Homo sapiens: one gene and its partner. The protein of the gene in region 2 interacts with the protein of the main gene of each other region in a pairwise test. Each region holds a gene or a part of one and is shown on either strand. Other genes may lie near its edges.

Region 1 (4,270 bases), on a different chromosome or scaffold from region 2:
TGAGACAGGAAAATCGCTTGAACCCGCGAGGCGGAGGTTGCAGTGAACTGAGATCACACCATTGCACTCCGGCCTGGGCAACAAAAGTGAAACTCAAAAAAAAAAAAAATCACCAGGTCTCAGACTCCTGGGAGACAGACCCCAGCTCCGACGTTCCAGTGGGATCTCATTAACCCCTGATACTGACCTTCCAATTTGATATACCTTCCTTTTAAAATATATTTATTGAAATACAAAGAGTCAATATAAAGAAAAATAGAGGTCACCATACTTGGCCACAGTTAGACCGCTCATAGGCCCATGGCTGCTGCAACCATGGGCAGGACACAGAGGGAGTCCAGCCTCTACTGATAAATCTGGGCAGGTTCACCTTCGCAGGCCAAGCCAGGGGCCATCCCTGGTATGCGAAACCTGGAGGTTTTCCAGGAAGCCGGCTGCTCCAGAGCTAGCTGTCAAGTCTTTAGCCCCACAGGCTGGTGCCCAGAGCCACTTCCACAGGAGCAGCCTCGGGCTTCACCCACACCCAAGGAGCTTCCGAGGCAGGAGGCAAGCAAGGTGAAGGGAGGGTTCAGGGTCCCACAACAGCAGTGAGCAGGGTCCAGCCATCAGGCCTCAGAGCCTCTGTCATGCCACCTGCGAGACGGGCTCCTCCTGTCCCCACTGTGTCCCCGCTTCCTCCTCTTACAGCAGGGGGAGTTGGAGTCGGAGTCATGGTGGTGGTGCCTGGGCCTGGGGAGACCAATGGCAGTCAGTCACTCGGAAGGAGTCAACCAGGCCCCCACCCCCAAGAGGCAGATATGGACCAGGGCATACCTCTCAGGAGATGTGGGAGAGGAGGTGGCCTCAGCTGGCCGCCTGTGCTCTTTGTCTTTCTTCTTCTTCTCTTTCTTGTGTTTCCTCTTTTTCTTTTTCTTCTTCTCCTTCTTGCTTTTCCTGTGGCTCTCACAACTACAAGGAGGATACAAGGTGTGCCTCAGACCCTAGTCTTGCAAGCCAAGAGAGTGAACACAAGCAGGCCCCATCCAGATGAAGCCACCACCCACAAGTGCGTCTTTAAATCAGTTAAATCAAACTACAAATTCCACTCCTCAGTTACGTAGTCACGTGGCCAGTGGCTACGTGGGTTAGAAACAGATGCAATATCCCCATCTCCACAGCACGCCCCTGCCCCACCCCAGCCGTGCCCTTGGCAGGTTGACACCTTCCTACCTGCACCCACCAGGCCACTCTTAGGGTCAGGCCCAGGCTCACCATCCAGGAGAAGCCCTGGAGGTGCCACCCACGGCAGGAAAAGGCCCCGCCCCAGGTCCTGAGTGCCCTCCCACGGCACAGCGCCCGACCACTGCCAGTACTTAGGACCTCTCTTCAAGGGTGACCCGAGAAACTCCCCTAGAGAAAAACCTAGGAGTAACTGGGACAGGAAGTAAAGTAGGGCAGGCCACCCGCCGGGCCGGTGCGCCAAGAGAAGCTGCCACCTGCCCGAGTGGGAGCCGCTCCGGTCCTCCCGAGACCCCCCACCCCGGGGCACAGCTAGCCCAGGTGGCACAGCCTCACCTGCTTTCCGTCTGATCCTCCGCCCGCGGCTTCCTCCTGGCCGAGGCTGCCGAGGTCCCGGGCCCGCCGCTCTCTACGCGGTGATGCTGCGGGAGAAGCGAGCTCTGCGGAGGAGTCTGCGGGCCGGCCCCACACCACGCCCCGCAGCGCCCCGGGGAGCTCCGTTCAGTGCCCCCGCCCCGCCCCACCCCTGTTAGCCCCTGCTGCGGTCAGGCGGGGCGGGGGATTACCGTGAACACAGACAGCCCCAGTTTGGCGGCCTCCTTGTCCTCTCGGGACATCGCCACGCGGCCCACGGAGCCACTGCAGGGACATGGCGATGAAGACAGTACGGCAGGGGTCCGCCTCACCCGAGCAATCGAGCCCAGTGCTGCCCTCCCCTGGAAACCCGCCCGCACCTTGCGCTCCCCAGCCCCAGCAGCCGGTCCACGCCCTTCTCCTCGGGGTCGCCTCCTTCCCGCTTGCAGACCTCCGCGAAGTCCTGCAGGTGCGAGAGCACAGGGAGCGCTCGAGTCGGCCCCACACCCACGGCCCTCCACGCGCCCCCCACCCCGGGGAGTTACCTCCTTGCTCAGGCCCGTGGGCTGCTTCTTCACGTTCTTGTAGCCACTGCGAGAGGGCCGGGGCAGGCGTCAGGACGGACGGACCTCCTCCCACCACAGGTCCTCACCACTCCAGCCTTCGTCCTCAGGGTCCCGCCCGCGCGAGTCCCCGCAGCCCCGCTCCCGCCCAGCCCGACCCCCAGTCCCCGGCCCCGGCCCCACCCTGCCCCGGCAGCGCCGTCCCAGGCACCGACCGCTGCCGTCCGCGGACACTCACAGGGCGGCCAGCAGCGCCTCGCGCTCCGCCTCCCGCACGGCTGCCAGTTCCTCCTCGCGGCTCGGGCCCGCGCATGGCGCCCGGCCCTTGGCGTACCAGGTGAGGTCGCGGCCCTTCTGCCAGCGGCCTACCGGCGCCATCAGCGAGTTGCCTGCGGACGTAGACGCTGTGAGTCCAGCGCCCGCCCGGGATCCCGGAGCCCGGAGCCCGGAGCCCGCCCACCGCGCGCACCCACCCAGGTAGTTCTCCCGCTGCTTGTCAGTCTTCACGTCCTCCCAGTTGAACTGGTCCTGCCCGCCGCGCACGCCTCCACGACTGGAGCCGAACATGGCGCCGGGAAGGCAGTTGCCTGGGGCCTGCGGCTTGCAACCTGCAACCCGCAACCCGAGACCCGCTACCCACTACCGTCGGACCCAGGCCCGACCCCGCCTCCGCGTCGCGCGCCGTGACGTCACTCCCGCGCCCACTCGGCTTCGCCGCGCGCCTCTGCGCAGCGCACTGCCCCGGATCTGTGCTCCCGCGCATCACCTCCACGTCGGCTTTGGGCGCCTGCGCACTGCGCCTACCCTGCCGGGCGCGGGAACGCCTCTGAACTGGAAGTTTAAAAATGGTTAAAACGGGGCCGGGCGGAGTGGCTCTCGCCTGTAATCCCAGCAAGTTGGGAGGCCGAGGCGGGCGGATCGCTTGAGGTCGGGAGTTCGAGACTAGCCTGTCCAACATGGTGAAACCCGGTCTCTACTCAAATACAAAAATTAGCCGGGTGTGGTGGTGCACACCTGTAATTCCAGCTACTCAGGAGGCTGAAGCAGGAGAATCACTTGAGCCGGGAGGCAGAGGTTGCAGTGAGCCGAGATCGCGCCACTGCACTCCCGCCTGGGCGACAGAGCGAGACTGTCTCAAAAATAAGAAGTTAAAATGGGCCAGGCGCGCGCGCGCCCCTGTAGCCCCAACGCTTTGAGGCTGAGGCGGGAGGATCTCGAACCCAGGACTTCGCGCCACTGCACTCCAACCTGAACGAGTGAGCGGACCCTGTCTCATAAAAAAAGAAAAAAGAAAACACACAAGATGCGCCTAGTTAACACCGCCAATTGGTCACTGCTAGTCGCGATTCCATATCGGGAGCTTAACAAGGTAATGACCTTAATGATTTGTGGAATTTCTGAGTATTACCCAGTAAACTTCTGGATGAACCAGCAGCTACCCAGACACCCTCAGAGCACTGGTCCTATCCCTGCCGTGTTAAACTGAATGTGCACCCTAACTCCCATGTGAAATCCTCACCCCAAGGCGTTGGTGCTTCGGAGGTGACTAGGTCATGAGGACAGAGCCTTCATAAAAGGGACCCCAAGAGCTTTGTGCAGCTTTCTACTGTGTGAAGGCAGCGGGAAGGAAGTCTGCAGTCTGGAAGAAACCCCTTACCAGAACCTCAGCGTGCTGGGCACCCTGATTTTGGAGGTTGTGACGTACCCCTGCTTCCCCTTTCCACTTTCATTCCCAGTGCTGACTGAGAAACAGAGTCCCTTGGCCACTCTGTGACTTCGCCAACTGTATAATTTCCTCTGCAGACTTGAACCCGAGCCATAGCCATGAACGTTCCCAGGCACAGATGACAGTAACTAGGTTGTTGCTCAAAACACAGAAAGAAACTGGACTCAGCCTGAGCCAGATTCCTCAAACCCTCATATAAATTCCATTCACCAACCCCCTCCCCCACGGACATACCTAGAGAGAACTTCATTTCTCTCACTGCCTATTGCAAGAACTGCTGCAGCCCACTCTGTACAAAAGCCCCACGAATAAATGCTCTGGGCGAATCACCCTGGCATGCTCAATCTGTAGAATCCTAACCAGCCCCATCTCAGGATGGTGTGGGGCACTCCCTTGTGGGAACTCTACT
Region 2 (4,444 bases):
ATGCAAAGTATTCATACAAATTTGTAACAGTAAAAATTAGGAAATTATAAAATACAGGAGGCTGTGAAGCTAAGTATTATATGTCAGTATAATGAAAGGCAGAAATCTATCAAAGGTGACAACAATTTGAACTATGTAAATACATAAAACTAAGTATATACACTGGTGTAAGTTAGAAGAAATTTTAAGTGTTAATTAAGACTCTTGCACAGTTCCAAATGACAGAAAACCCAACCCAAACTGGCTAAGGAAAAGAGGAGATTTATTGGCTGATGAAAATTAAAACTTTAAAAGGCACAAAAATCTCTTCAAAATAGATTATAGACCTAAATGAAAACGTAACATTGTAAAATGTCTAAAAGAAAACACAGGATAAAAATCTAAATGACCTTTCTTTTTTTTTTTTTTTGGTAAAAAAGTCAAAAACAGACAATACCAAAGGCTGACAAGGACACAAAGCAACAAGGACTCTCATTCATTGCTGATGGACATGCAAAATAGTATAGCTAGTTTAGAAGACAGTTTGGCTTAACACAGGATCCAGCAATTACTCTCCTAGGTATTTACCAAATTGATTTGAAAACATATCCATGCAAAAGGCTGCACATAAATGTACATAGAAGCATTTCTCACAATTGCCAAAAACTGGAAGCCACCAAGATGTCTTTCGATAGGGGAAGGGATGAACAAATTGTGACACATCCACACAGTGAAATATTATTCAGTGGTAAAAAGAAATAAGCTATCAAACCATGAAAAGATGTGGAGAAGCCTTAAAATGATATTGATGAGGAAATGAAGCCAATCTGAAAAGACTACATACTGTATAACTCCAGCTCTGTGACATTCAAGAAAAGGCAAAACTGTGGAGACAGTGAAAAGATCAGTGGTTGCCAGGAGCTAGGGGGAAAGGGGGAGGGGGGAATGAATAGGTGAAGCACAAGAGATTTTTTAAGTGGTGAAACCATAACGTATGGTACTATAATGGTGAATACATGGTCCTATTAATTTGTCAAGACCCCCATATATTTAATAGCATAAAAAGCAAACCTTAATGGATGCAAATTAAAAAAAATTATTTACGAGATTGTAGGATTTCAGGAAGGAATTCAGACTGTGACAAGAAAATCTAACTGTATTACAAGTGCATAAAACAACCTTACTGAAGAGGCTAGAAAGAAAATGTGCAGACTTAAGTAACTTTGGAAATGAATAGAGTTTATAAGAATAAAGGCAAAAGGAATTGCAGATAAGCAGTGTACTCTTGTTGACAAAGTCCTTCTCACAGGAGTAAAAAAGAGGTAAGAGTGAGGAAAGAGATGTTTTTCCCAAAGCCAAGTGAGTCACAAGAAGGGGAGTGGATGAGATGGATGATGAGCAACACAAATCATAAATGCCCACCATAAATATGCATTTGATTATTTTTCTGTAACATTGTAAAATATGCTCACACTTTGGAAAAAAAGAAAAAAAGGCCAGGTTCACGCCTGGAATCCCGACACAGGTGGGTGGATCACTTGAGGTCAGGAGTTCGAGACCAGCCTAGCCAACATGGTGAAACCCCATTTCTACTAAAAGTACAAAATAAATAAATAAATAAACAACCACATGTGGTGGCATGTGCCTATAGTCCTAGCTACTCGGGAGACTGAGGCAGGAGAAACACTTGAACCTGGGAGGTGGAGGGTGCAGAGAGCCCAGATCGTGCCATTGCACCCTAGTCTGGGCAACAGGGCGAGACTCTGTCTCAAAAAATAAATAATTTGGAAAAAAAGGAAATAAAATGAAGTTTAGTTTATGCCTTATAGACTTACCACAACTAGTCATCTTCTATTTTTTAGATATTATTATAATTTCACACACACTGCCCAAATCATTTAAAGTAAGCTGAATGAACAAAACTCAAACCAATCACTTTACTAGGTTTAATGCATATCCTGCTCAAATTTTTATCAAGCAAATATGTCAAGTTTATAATGTTATGAGAAGCTTAAATCAGTGTTAATAAAAATTCGATGAAAAGTATGTTTTTTATTACATCAAAGAAGTTTCTCTTGCACAAACCATAAAAGCTATGCTAATTCAAATATTCCTTTGTGAAAGTTACCTCAGATATAGTGACAACTGCTGTGTTAAAGACATGTTTATGGCAACAAGATGATGATGATCAGACTGAGTGGGCATAATGAGATAGCAGTATCATGTAAATTAAATGTAGGTGGGTTGGGCATGGTGGCTGATGCCTGTAATCCCAGCACTTTGGGAGGCCTATGCAGGCAGATCACCTGAGGTCAGGAGTTCAAGGCCAGCCTGGCCAACATGGTGAAACCCTCATCTTTACAAAAATACAAAAATTAGCTGGGCATGATGGCAGATGCCTGTAATCCCAGCTACTCAGGAAGCTGAGGCTGGAGAATCTCTTGAACCCAGGTGGCGGAGGTTGCAGTGAGCCGAGATCGCGCCATTGTACTCTAGCCTGGGCGACAGAGCGAGACTCTGTCTCAAAAAAAAAAACCCAAAAAACAAACAAAAACAAAAAACATATGTGATCATTGCATTGTTATATCCATTATATAAAAATCATATATGTGAGAGAAAAAGCAAATTTAGATCTCCTTGTGAAAGCAAACACAAAAACTATTTACCTGTAAAAATCATTTGTTTTCCCACAGTAGTAGATGTTGGCTTTTGGTATGATACAGATGCCATGGCTAAAGTCTTAACCGTGCTACTGGATTTTCTTCTTCGGCTTCTTCAAATCAGTTAAGCTGCACCAGAAAGAACGAAAGACTCTGCAGTCTTTCCTCTCCCTGCTTGTGACCTGCACCAGGTGGTTGCTAATGACTCTTTATGACAGGGAGATAGAATGTTCCTCCTTGCAGAGTTCTGCATTCCAATCTCCAAGAGCAGAGACAGATACTGCTATAGTCTTCCCAGAACTTGCATCCAGTAATAACTTTTCCTTATTTGTCAATATCAAGTCAGAATACACTTGTTCACAGGTACTAGATCCAGTTCCAGCTTATGTCCCAGATAATCTGGCAGGCTCAGTCACCACTGTCTTTCAACATTTCAAAAAGAATGTCTTGCAGAAATATGTTACAGCAAAAAACAAAAAGCCCCCACAAACCATGGTTAAATATATTTGACAAACACTGGCAAGATAAAATACAGTAAAAAATAACATTAATAAATTAATGAGATAATTACACACACACAAATATATATAGATATATTTCCAGTCTCATATTCCAATCCCTCCTTAAATAGTGCTTGTGCTTTGGTCATGTCAATTTACCTGTGGTTCTCAATCTGTGCAATGCTTTCTCATTGTTCTGAGCCTTTACACATACAATTTGCTCTTCCTGTAATGTTGCTATGCAAATATTTCTTGTCCTTTGACAGCCAAGGCCCACATCTGCTCTTCCAGGAGGATGTCTGCAGACACAGCTAAGTGCTTTCTTCTTCATGTCCCTTTAACCTCTATAGCACTGTGTTTAGATGTATCTTTTTAACTCACCACTTCAATTATTTGTCTATTTTATCGACCTCCCCACTAGAATCTGACTTCTAGGAGTTTATGATAAAAGTATACTTATTTATATTTCAATTTCCAGAGACTTGTATGCAATAAATAGTTAATAGATGTTTGTGGGATGAATAATTGTATGAACAGTAATTCTAGCTTGCACAGAAATATATCGGCTACCTGATAATCCATTGAAGATAAATTCTAACAGTAATTTTGTATTCAACATTAAATATATGGAGTTGTCTACTGTAAATGTAATATCTTTTATATTTTGAGAATTATAAGAAAAACACTATATTAACTCTGGAAAGGCTTACAGTAGGCTTATGGTAGGCAAAGAGATGTGCTACTCAGGTAGGTTCCCTTTCAAGGAAGGCTTGTAGCCCAGCTGGAGGAAGGACTGTCAGCAGACAGTGTCCAGCTGTCAGCACCTTCGGGGTCTGCCTTGGCTGCAGAGAGCTGCCTCCTCTGTCTGAGGTCAAGCCTTTTCCAGGGGAGCCTATGTCAGGTACTGAATGAGGTAGAGGTATAAAGACCAGTCATTTCTCACCAGGTTGGTCAAGGCTGTGTTGAGCCCTTACAGTTCTTCTTCTTCCTCTGATCAGTCCTGCTTCCTCACCTTTCCTTTCACAGGTATTGAACCCAAATAACCACCTTGCCCCCCACTTTCAGAGAACCCGACCTGAGATAACTAGACAGCATAAGCACATATGCACAAATGTATTATACAAGAGTGCTTCTCATTTTAACCACTCAGCCCTCCTAACCAGAAACTGAATATATTTCCCCAATGTGGGCAACTAGAGTCAGTCGCTGTTGTGTTACTGATCTTTGGTGTCATTTTCTTTGGTTCTGACCTGCATTATGCTCTTCTTTACCTTCCTATGGCCTGCTACAGTTTCAGAAGCTTTC

What was found.
Region 1: the proteins of SPMIP2 (region 2) and C1orf35 interact in binary tests that used the Homo sapiens proteins (3 or more experiments, as listed by UniProt).

What each region holds. Positions count from the first base shown.
Region 1 is NC_000001.11:228,100,526-228,104,795, forward strand, and holds C1orf35 (multiple myeloma tumor-associated protein 2), read right to left. Parts: upstream 2,801-4,270; 5' UTR 2,703-2,800; coding exon 2,609-2,702; intron 2,525-2,608; coding exon 2,374-2,524; intron 2,164-2,373; coding exon 2,118-2,163; intron 2,036-2,117; coding exon 1,953-2,035; intron 1,858-1,952; coding exon 1,785-1,857; intron 1,641-1,784; coding exon 1,555-1,640; intron 1,390-1,554; exon of another isoform or gene 1,210-1,389; intron 949-1,209; coding exon 814-948; intron 730-813; coding exon 606-729; 3' UTR 206-605; downstream 1-205.
Region 2 is NC_000004.12:159,032,388-159,036,831, forward strand, and holds the start of SPMIP2 (protein SPMIP2), read right to left. Parts: upstream 2,843-4,444; 5' UTR 2,710-2,842; coding exon 2,646-2,709; intron 1-2,645.